2 linked regions of the Homo sapiens genome follow. Each later gene encodes a partner of the first gene's protein in a complex. Each region holds a gene or a part of one and is shown on either strand. Other genes may lie near its edges.

Region 1 (3,589 bases):
GAGGTGGGCAGATCACGAGGTCAGGAGTTTGAGATCAGCCTGGCCAACATAGTGAAACCTCATCTCTACTACAAATACAAGTACAAAAAAAAAAAAATTAGCCAGATGTGGTGGCACACGCCTGAAGTCCCAGCTACTCGGGAGGCTGAGGCAGGAGAATCACTTGAACCCAGGAGGCGGAGGTTGCAGTGAGCCAAGACCATGCCATTGCACTCCAGCCTGGGTGACAGAGCAAGACTCAATCTCAAAAAAAAAAAAAGTATAACATAATTAGGTACAGTACGTTACTGGTTTATGTACAGACATATCTCAGGGACATCGCTGGTTCAGCTCCAGGCTACCAATAAAGCAAATATTGCAATAAGGCAAGGCACACAAATTTTTTTGGTTTCTCACTACATATAAAAGTTATGTTGGCCAGGCATGGTGGTTCATGCCTGTAATCCCAGCACTTTGGGAGGCCGAGGCAGGTGGATCGCTTGAGTTCAGGAATTCAAGACCAGCCTGGCCAACATGGGGAAACCCCGTCTCTACTAAAAATACAAAAATTAGCCGGGTGTGATGGTGCCCACCTGTGCTAGAACCTGGGAGGTGGAGGTTGCATTGAGCCAAGATCGTGCCACTGCACTCCAGCCTAGGCGACAGAGCAAGACTCCATCTCAAAAAAAAATGTTATGTTTACACTATACTGTAGTCTATTAAGTGTGTAATAACATTATGTCTAGTAAACAATGTACATACCTTAATCAAAAATACTTTATTGCTAAAACATGCTAACAACCATCAGACACTTCAGTGAGTTGTCATCTTTTTCCAAGACCCACCAGCAGGGTCTTGCCTTGATGTCGATGGCTGCTAACTGACAAGGGTGGTGTTTGCTGAAGGCTGAAGTGGCTGTGACAATTTCTTAAAATAAGACAACAAAGAAGTTTGCCACATCATTTGATTCTTCCTTTGACAAAAGATTTCTCTGTGATGGATGCTGTTTGATAGCATTTTACCCACAGTAGAACTTTCAGAACTGGAATCAATCCTCTCAAATTCTGCACCTGCTTTATCAATTAAGTTTATGTAATATTCTAAATCCTTCATTATCATTTCAACAATGTTCACGGCATCTTCACCAGTAGAAGATTCCATCAAGAAACCACTTTCTTTGGTCATCCCTAAGAGCTCCTCATCCATTAAAGTTTTAACATGAGATTGCAGCAATTCAGTCCCATCTTTAGACTCCCCTTTGGATTCTAATTCTCTTACCATTTCCTCCACATCTGCAGTTACTCCCTCCATGGAAGTCCTCAATCCCTCAAAGTCATCCATGAGGGCTGAAGGGTTGGAATCAATTTCTTCCAAACTCCTCTTTATGTTCATAGTTTAACCTCCTCCCATGAATCACAAATGTTCTTAAGGGCGTGTAGAATGGTGAATCCTTTCCAGGTTTTCAATTTACTTTGTCCAGATCCATCAAAGGAACCACTATCCAGGGCAGCTATAGCTTTATAAAATGTATTTCTTAAGTAATAAGACTTGAAAGTCAAAATTACTCCTTGATCCATAAGCCGAAGATTGGATGTTGCAGGCATGAAACATCTCCATCTGAGCTTTAGGGTAATGAGGTGCACTGTAATATTTTGAAAGGAATCTATTTTTCTGAACAGTACCTCTTAATGGGGGGCTTAAAAAATATTCAGTAAACCATGCTGTAAACAGATGTGTTGTCATCCAGACTTTGTTGTTCTATTTACAGAGCACAGGCAGAGTAGATTTAGCCCCACCTTCTTAAGGGCCCTACAATTTTCAGAATGCTAAATGAGCTTTGGCTTCAATGTAAAATCACCAGCTGCATTAGTCCCTAACAAGGGAATCACTCTGATCTTTGCATCTTGGAAACCAGGCATTGACTTCTCTCTAGCTGTGCAAGTTCCAGATGTCACTTTCTTCCAATAGAAGGCTATTCCGTCTACATTGAAAATCTGTTGTTGAGTGTACCCACCGTCAATGATCTTAGCTAGGTCTTCCGGATAACTTGCTGCAGCTTCTACAACAGCATCTGCTGCTTCACCTTGTACTTTTCTGTTATGGAGATGGCTTCTTTCCTTAAACCTCATGAACCAACCTCTGCTAGCTTCAAACTTTTCTTTTGTAGCTTCCTCACCTGTCTCAGCCTTCACAGAATTCAAGAGTTAGGATCTTGGTCTGGATTATGGTTTGGCTTAAAAGAATGTTGTGGCTGGTTTGATATTCTATCCAGACCACTGAAACTTTCTCCATATCAGCAATAAGGATGTTCTGCTTTCTTATCATTTGTGCGTTCACTGGAGTAGCACTTTTAATTTCCTTCAAGAATTTTCCTTTGCTTTCATAACTTGACTAATATTTGGTGTTGAGGCCTAGCTTTTGGCCTATTTGGCTTTTCACATGCCTTCTTCACTAAGCTCAATCATTTCTAGCTTTGGATTTTAAGTAACAGACATGGGACACTTTCTTTCACTTGGACACCGAGAGGCCATAATACGGTTATTAACTGGCCTAGTTTCAATATTGTTGTGTCTAAGGAAATAGGGAAGTCTGAGAGGGAGAGAGATGGGGAACGGCTGGTGGGTGGAGTGGTCAGAACACACACAGCATTTCATTTATCAAATAAATTCAGTAACTTTTATGGGCACATTTCATGGTGCCCCCCCGCCCAACAATTACAATAGCAACATCAAAGATCACTAACGGACACAATAAATCATGAAGAAGTTTGAAATACTGTAAGAATTACCAAAATTTGACACACAGACACAAAGTGAACACATGTTGTTGGAAAAATGGTACTGACAGACTTGCTTGGGGCAAGGTTGCCAAAAACCTTCAATTTATAAAAAGCAAAGTATCCATAAAATACAATAAAGCTAAGTGCAATAAGACAAGGTATGCCTATACTATACTTTTTTTGGTATTAAATATACTCTTCCCACTTATAAAAAAAAGTTAACTGTAAAACAGCACCAAGCAGGCCCTTTCAGGAGGTATCCGAGAAGAAGGCATTATCATCATAGGAGATGACAGGTTTATGCATGTTGGTGCCCCCGAAGACCTTCCGGTGGGAAAAGATGTGGAGGTAGAAGACAGTGATGTTGGTGCTATGGTTAGGCTTTGTGCCGCCACCCAAATCTCATCTTGAATTGTAGTGCCCATAATCCCCACGTGTTGTGGGAGGGAGCCAGTGGGAAGTAACTGAATCATGGGGGTGGTTACCCCCATGCTGTTCTCATGATAGTGAGTTCTCACGAGATCTGATGGTTTTATGAGGGGCTTTAGCCCCTTTGCTCAGCATTTGTCTCTCCTGTTGCCATGTAAAGAAAGACATGTTTGCTTTCCCTGCTGCTATGACTGTAAGTTTCCTGAGGCCTCCCGAGTCACTGTGAGTCAATTAAACCTCTTTCCCTTATCAATTACCCAGGCAGTTCTTCATAGCAGTGTGAGAACGGACTAATACAGTTGGTGATCCTGATCCTGTGTAGGCCTAGGGTAATGTGTGCTTGTGTCTTAGTTTTTAACAAGAAAAGTTTAAAAAGTAAAAAATAAAAATAAAAAAATTAGA
Region 2 (3,820 bases), on another chromosome or scaffold:
TTTTTAGGCCAGGTGCGGTGGCTCATGCCTGTAATCCCAGCACTTTGGGAGGCTGAGGCGGGCGGATCACAAGGTCAGGAGATCAAGACCATCCTGGCTAACATGGTGAAACCCCGTCTCTGCTAAAAAAAAATACAAAAAATTAGCTGGGCATGGTGGCGGGCACCTGTAATCCCAGCTACTTGGGAGGCTGAGGCAGGAGAATGGCGTGAACCCAGGAGGCGGAGCTTGCAGTGAACTGAGATCGCGCCATTGCACTCCAGCCTGGGCAACAGAGTGAGGCTCTGTCTAAAAAAATAAAATTAAAAAATAAAAAATAAAAAAAAAAAGAAGAAGAAAATACAAAATTAGCTGGGCATGGTGGCAGGTGCCTATAATCCCAGCTACTCGGGAGACTAAGGCAGGAGAATGGCGTGAACCCAGGAGGCGGAGCTTGCAGTGAGCTGAGATCACGCCATTGCACTCCAGCCTGGGTGACAGAGCGAGGCTCTGTCTTTAAAAAAAAAAAAAAAGAAGAAGAAGAAAATACAAAATTAGCCGGGCGTGGTGGTGCGTGCCTGTAATTCCAGCTACTCAGGAGGCTGAGGCAGGAGAATTGCTTGAACCCAGGAGGCGGAGGTTGTGGTGAGCTGAGATTGCGCCATTGCACTCCAGCCTGAGCAACAAGAGCGAGACTCCGTCCCACAAAAAAAAGAAAAAAACATGCTGGGATTACAGGCATGAGTCACTGCACCTGGCCAGCTTTTATTCTTTCACCAATCTGGTTGGTTGTCATTTTGTTTTTCATTTTTAATAATTACTTAGCCGGGTGCAGTGGCTCACACCTATAATCTTAGCACTTTGGGAAGCCTAAGCGGGTGGATCACCTGAGGTCAGGAGTTCGAGACTTGCCTGGCCAACATGGTGAAACCCCATCTCTACTAAAAATACAAAAATTAGCTGGGTGTGGTGGCGGGTGCTTGTAATCCCAGCTACTCGGGAGGCTGAGGCAGGAGAATCGCTTGAACCCGGGATGCAGAGGTTGCAGTGAGCCAAGATCATGCCATTGCACTCCAGCCTGGACAAGAGCGAAATTCCATCTCAAAAAAAAAAAAGAATTACTTAAATATTCTGGATTGTAGTCCTAGTCTGAAAATATCTTCTTTAGGGCTTTCTCATGTATCTTTTTTGTTTGTTTCTAGCTTCTTTTGTCTTTTTTATTTACTTATGTTTCCTGTCATGCTTTTTCATTAAACATTATGACAGTTCCTGTGTTATTAAAATACTTTGTGAAATAGCATTACAGGGGCTGCAGGATATCCCATCCCATACATATTCTGCAATTTACAATCATAGGTTATTCCCAAGTTTTCTCTATTATATAAATAATACTGTGATGCATATTTCTGTACATGAAGCTTTTTGCTATCTCGTGTTTGGTTTTTGTTTTTTTTTTTTTGAGATGGAGTCTCGCTCTGTCGCCCAGGCTGCAGTGCAGTGGTGCAGTCTTCGCTCACTGCAACCTCTGTCCCCTGGGTTCAAGCGATTCTCCTGCCTCAGCCTCAGGAGTAGCTGGGATTACAGGGGCCCCCACCACCATGCCTGGCTAATTTTTGTATTTTTAGTAGAGATGGGGTTTCACCATATTGGCCACGCTGGTCTTGAACTGCTGACCTCGTGATTCTCCCGCCTCGGCCTCCCAAAGTGCTGGGATTACAGGCATGAGTCACCGCACCCGGCCTGGTTTTGTTTTTTACTTAGGTAGATTGCTTTTAAACGGACAAATGGGTCCAAGTACTGATTTTAAAAAGGGCTCTACCACTTAAATAATTCCATGAATAGTATAGAAAAGTGTCTATCCATGGTATTTTCTTTTTCTGTGTGATGGAGTCTTGTTTTGTCGCCCAGGCTGGAGTGCAGTGGCGTGATCTCGGCTCACTGCAAACTCTGCCTCCTAGGTTCAAGCGATTCTCCTGCCACAGCCTGAGTAGCTGGGATTACAGGTGCGCACCACCACGCCCGGCTAATTTTTGTATTTTTAGTAGAGACGAGGTTTCACCATGTTGGTCAGGCTGGTCTCGAACTCCTGACCTTGTGAGCCACCTGTCTGGGCCTCCCAAAGCGCTAGGATTACAAGCATGAGCCACTGCGCCCACCTGGTATTTTCATGAACATACGTGCCACGTGTGTGTATAGCGTTGCATCAGGAGACAGCTTCGCTGGAGTGTGATTATGACTTGGAAACTCAGCTCCATTTCTGTTTCTTATAGCTCTTCCTCCTCCCAGAAAGACACGTGCTGAGCTCATGAAGGCAATCGATTTTGAGTACTATGGTTACCTAGATGAAGATGATGGTGTTATTGTGCCTTTGGAACAGGAATATGAAAAGAAACGTAGGTCTCTGGGCATTTTATTTCATAATAGATGGCATCTGTTTTCTGTTGTGTCCTTTGAAAACAGGATTTTCAATAGTGCTTTATGCCAGAAGGGAGTTTTCTTTGTTGCTAATGATCTTCAGGCGTGATGGTCTGCTAATTCCCTGACCCCTGTGAGGCAGTCAAAGCTGTGTGGGCCAGAGGTAACAGGTTGGGGAAGCCATGAGAGCCACGTCTGACCGGTCCCTGTCTGCTAGGAGGTCACCATGTGGATTCGTGCTAATACCAGTGCCCATGTGACACATCAGGCCAGGACTTTGGAAGCAAGTGGTCTGGAGCTGGAGCTGCTTTCTAGCATGCTCTGCCCCTGCCTTCTCTCTTTTCATGTGGACATGTTGGGAATCCACTCAGGTTGTGGAAGTGGGGAGGATTTGGGAATGTTCCCTAAAAAGCTGCTTTGTAGTGACTGAAGGCCAGAGCTGTTGTAGGACTACCATGCTTCACATCCATTTCCACCCACGGGGGCAGAATGAAGGGTGTCCCTTTCTAGAGGGGATGTCTAGACTTTCCCTGCATAGTGTTGGCCTTTCCCTGCATAGTGTTGAAAGCTCATTTAGAGACAAATAAATAGCACCTACCCTCTCTTGTGTTCAGTCAGAGCCGAGTTAGTGGAAAAGTGGAAAGCAGAGAGAGAGGCTCGGCTGGCAAGAGGAGAAAAGGAAGAGGAGGAGGAAGAGGAGGAAGAGATCAACATCTATGCAGTCACCGAGGAGGAGGTATTGGGGTTGGCCCCCTCTGGCACTCACTGCCATCTGTTCCAAGCCATGAAGTGTGGCAGGGAGGAAACTTGGCTCCCAAATACAGAGTCAGGGTTCACAGCCCAGCTTGCTCACCTGCAGGATGGCTGTGAAAACACTTGCGAGATTACAGGAGGGTTTCAGGAGGCAGCAGCCATGAGAGTGCCCTGCCGGCCGTGCTTTACACCAGGGCTTCCTTCTTTCCTTCTTAAAGACAGGCCCTTCTGCATACACTAGAATTAGACTGATAAACACAGAGGAAGCCATGAGCTTTAGCCCATGACCTCATCACTTCTGTTCACGTGTCAGTGGCAGTTGCTCTTCTGTAGTCTAACACCCCCATCTTTTTTATTTTTTTTGAAACGGAATCTGGCTCTGTTGCCCAGGCTGGAGTGCAGTGGCACAATCTTGGCTCACTGCAACCTCTGCCTTCCGGGTTCAAGCAATTCTTCTGCCTCAACCTCCCAAGTAGCTGGGACTACAGGCGAGTGCCACCACGCATGGCTAATTTTTGTATTTTTAGTAGAGACGGGGTTTCACCATATTGGCCAGGCTGGTCTCGAACTCCTGACCTTGTGATCCACCTGCCTTGGCCTCCCAAAGTGCTGGGATGACAGGTGTGAACCATTGCTCCCAGCCCTAACACCCCTGTCTTACACATGGAAAGAA

What was found.
Region 2: PRPF19 (region 1) and ISY1-RAB43 share a complex: the UniProt entries of both Homo sapiens proteins name them as parts of the XAB2 complex.

The regions. Positions count from the first base shown.
Region 1 is NC_000011.10:60,893,258-60,896,846, forward strand, and holds part of PRPF19 (pre-mRNA-processing factor 19), read right to left. Parts: intron 1-3,589. UniProt on the Homo sapiens protein: Ubiquitin-protein ligase which is a core component of several complexes mainly involved pre-mRNA splicing and DNA repair. Required for pre-mRNA splicing as component of the spliceosome.
Region 2 is NC_000003.12:129,133,384-129,137,203, reverse strand, and holds part of ISY1-RAB43 (ISY1-RAB43 protein), read left to right. Parts: intron 1-7; coding exon of another isoform or gene 8-73; intron 74-2,249; coding exon 2,250-2,372; intron 2,373-3,008; coding exon 3,009-3,130; intron 3,131-3,820. Other genes in the region: pre-mRNA-splicing factor ISY1 homolog, read left to right, coding at 8-73, 2,250-2,372, 3,009-3,130. UniProt on the Homo sapiens protein: Component of the spliceosome C complex required for the selective processing of microRNAs during embryonic stem cell differentiation. Required for the biogenesis of all miRNAs from the pri-miR-17-92 primary transcript except miR-92a.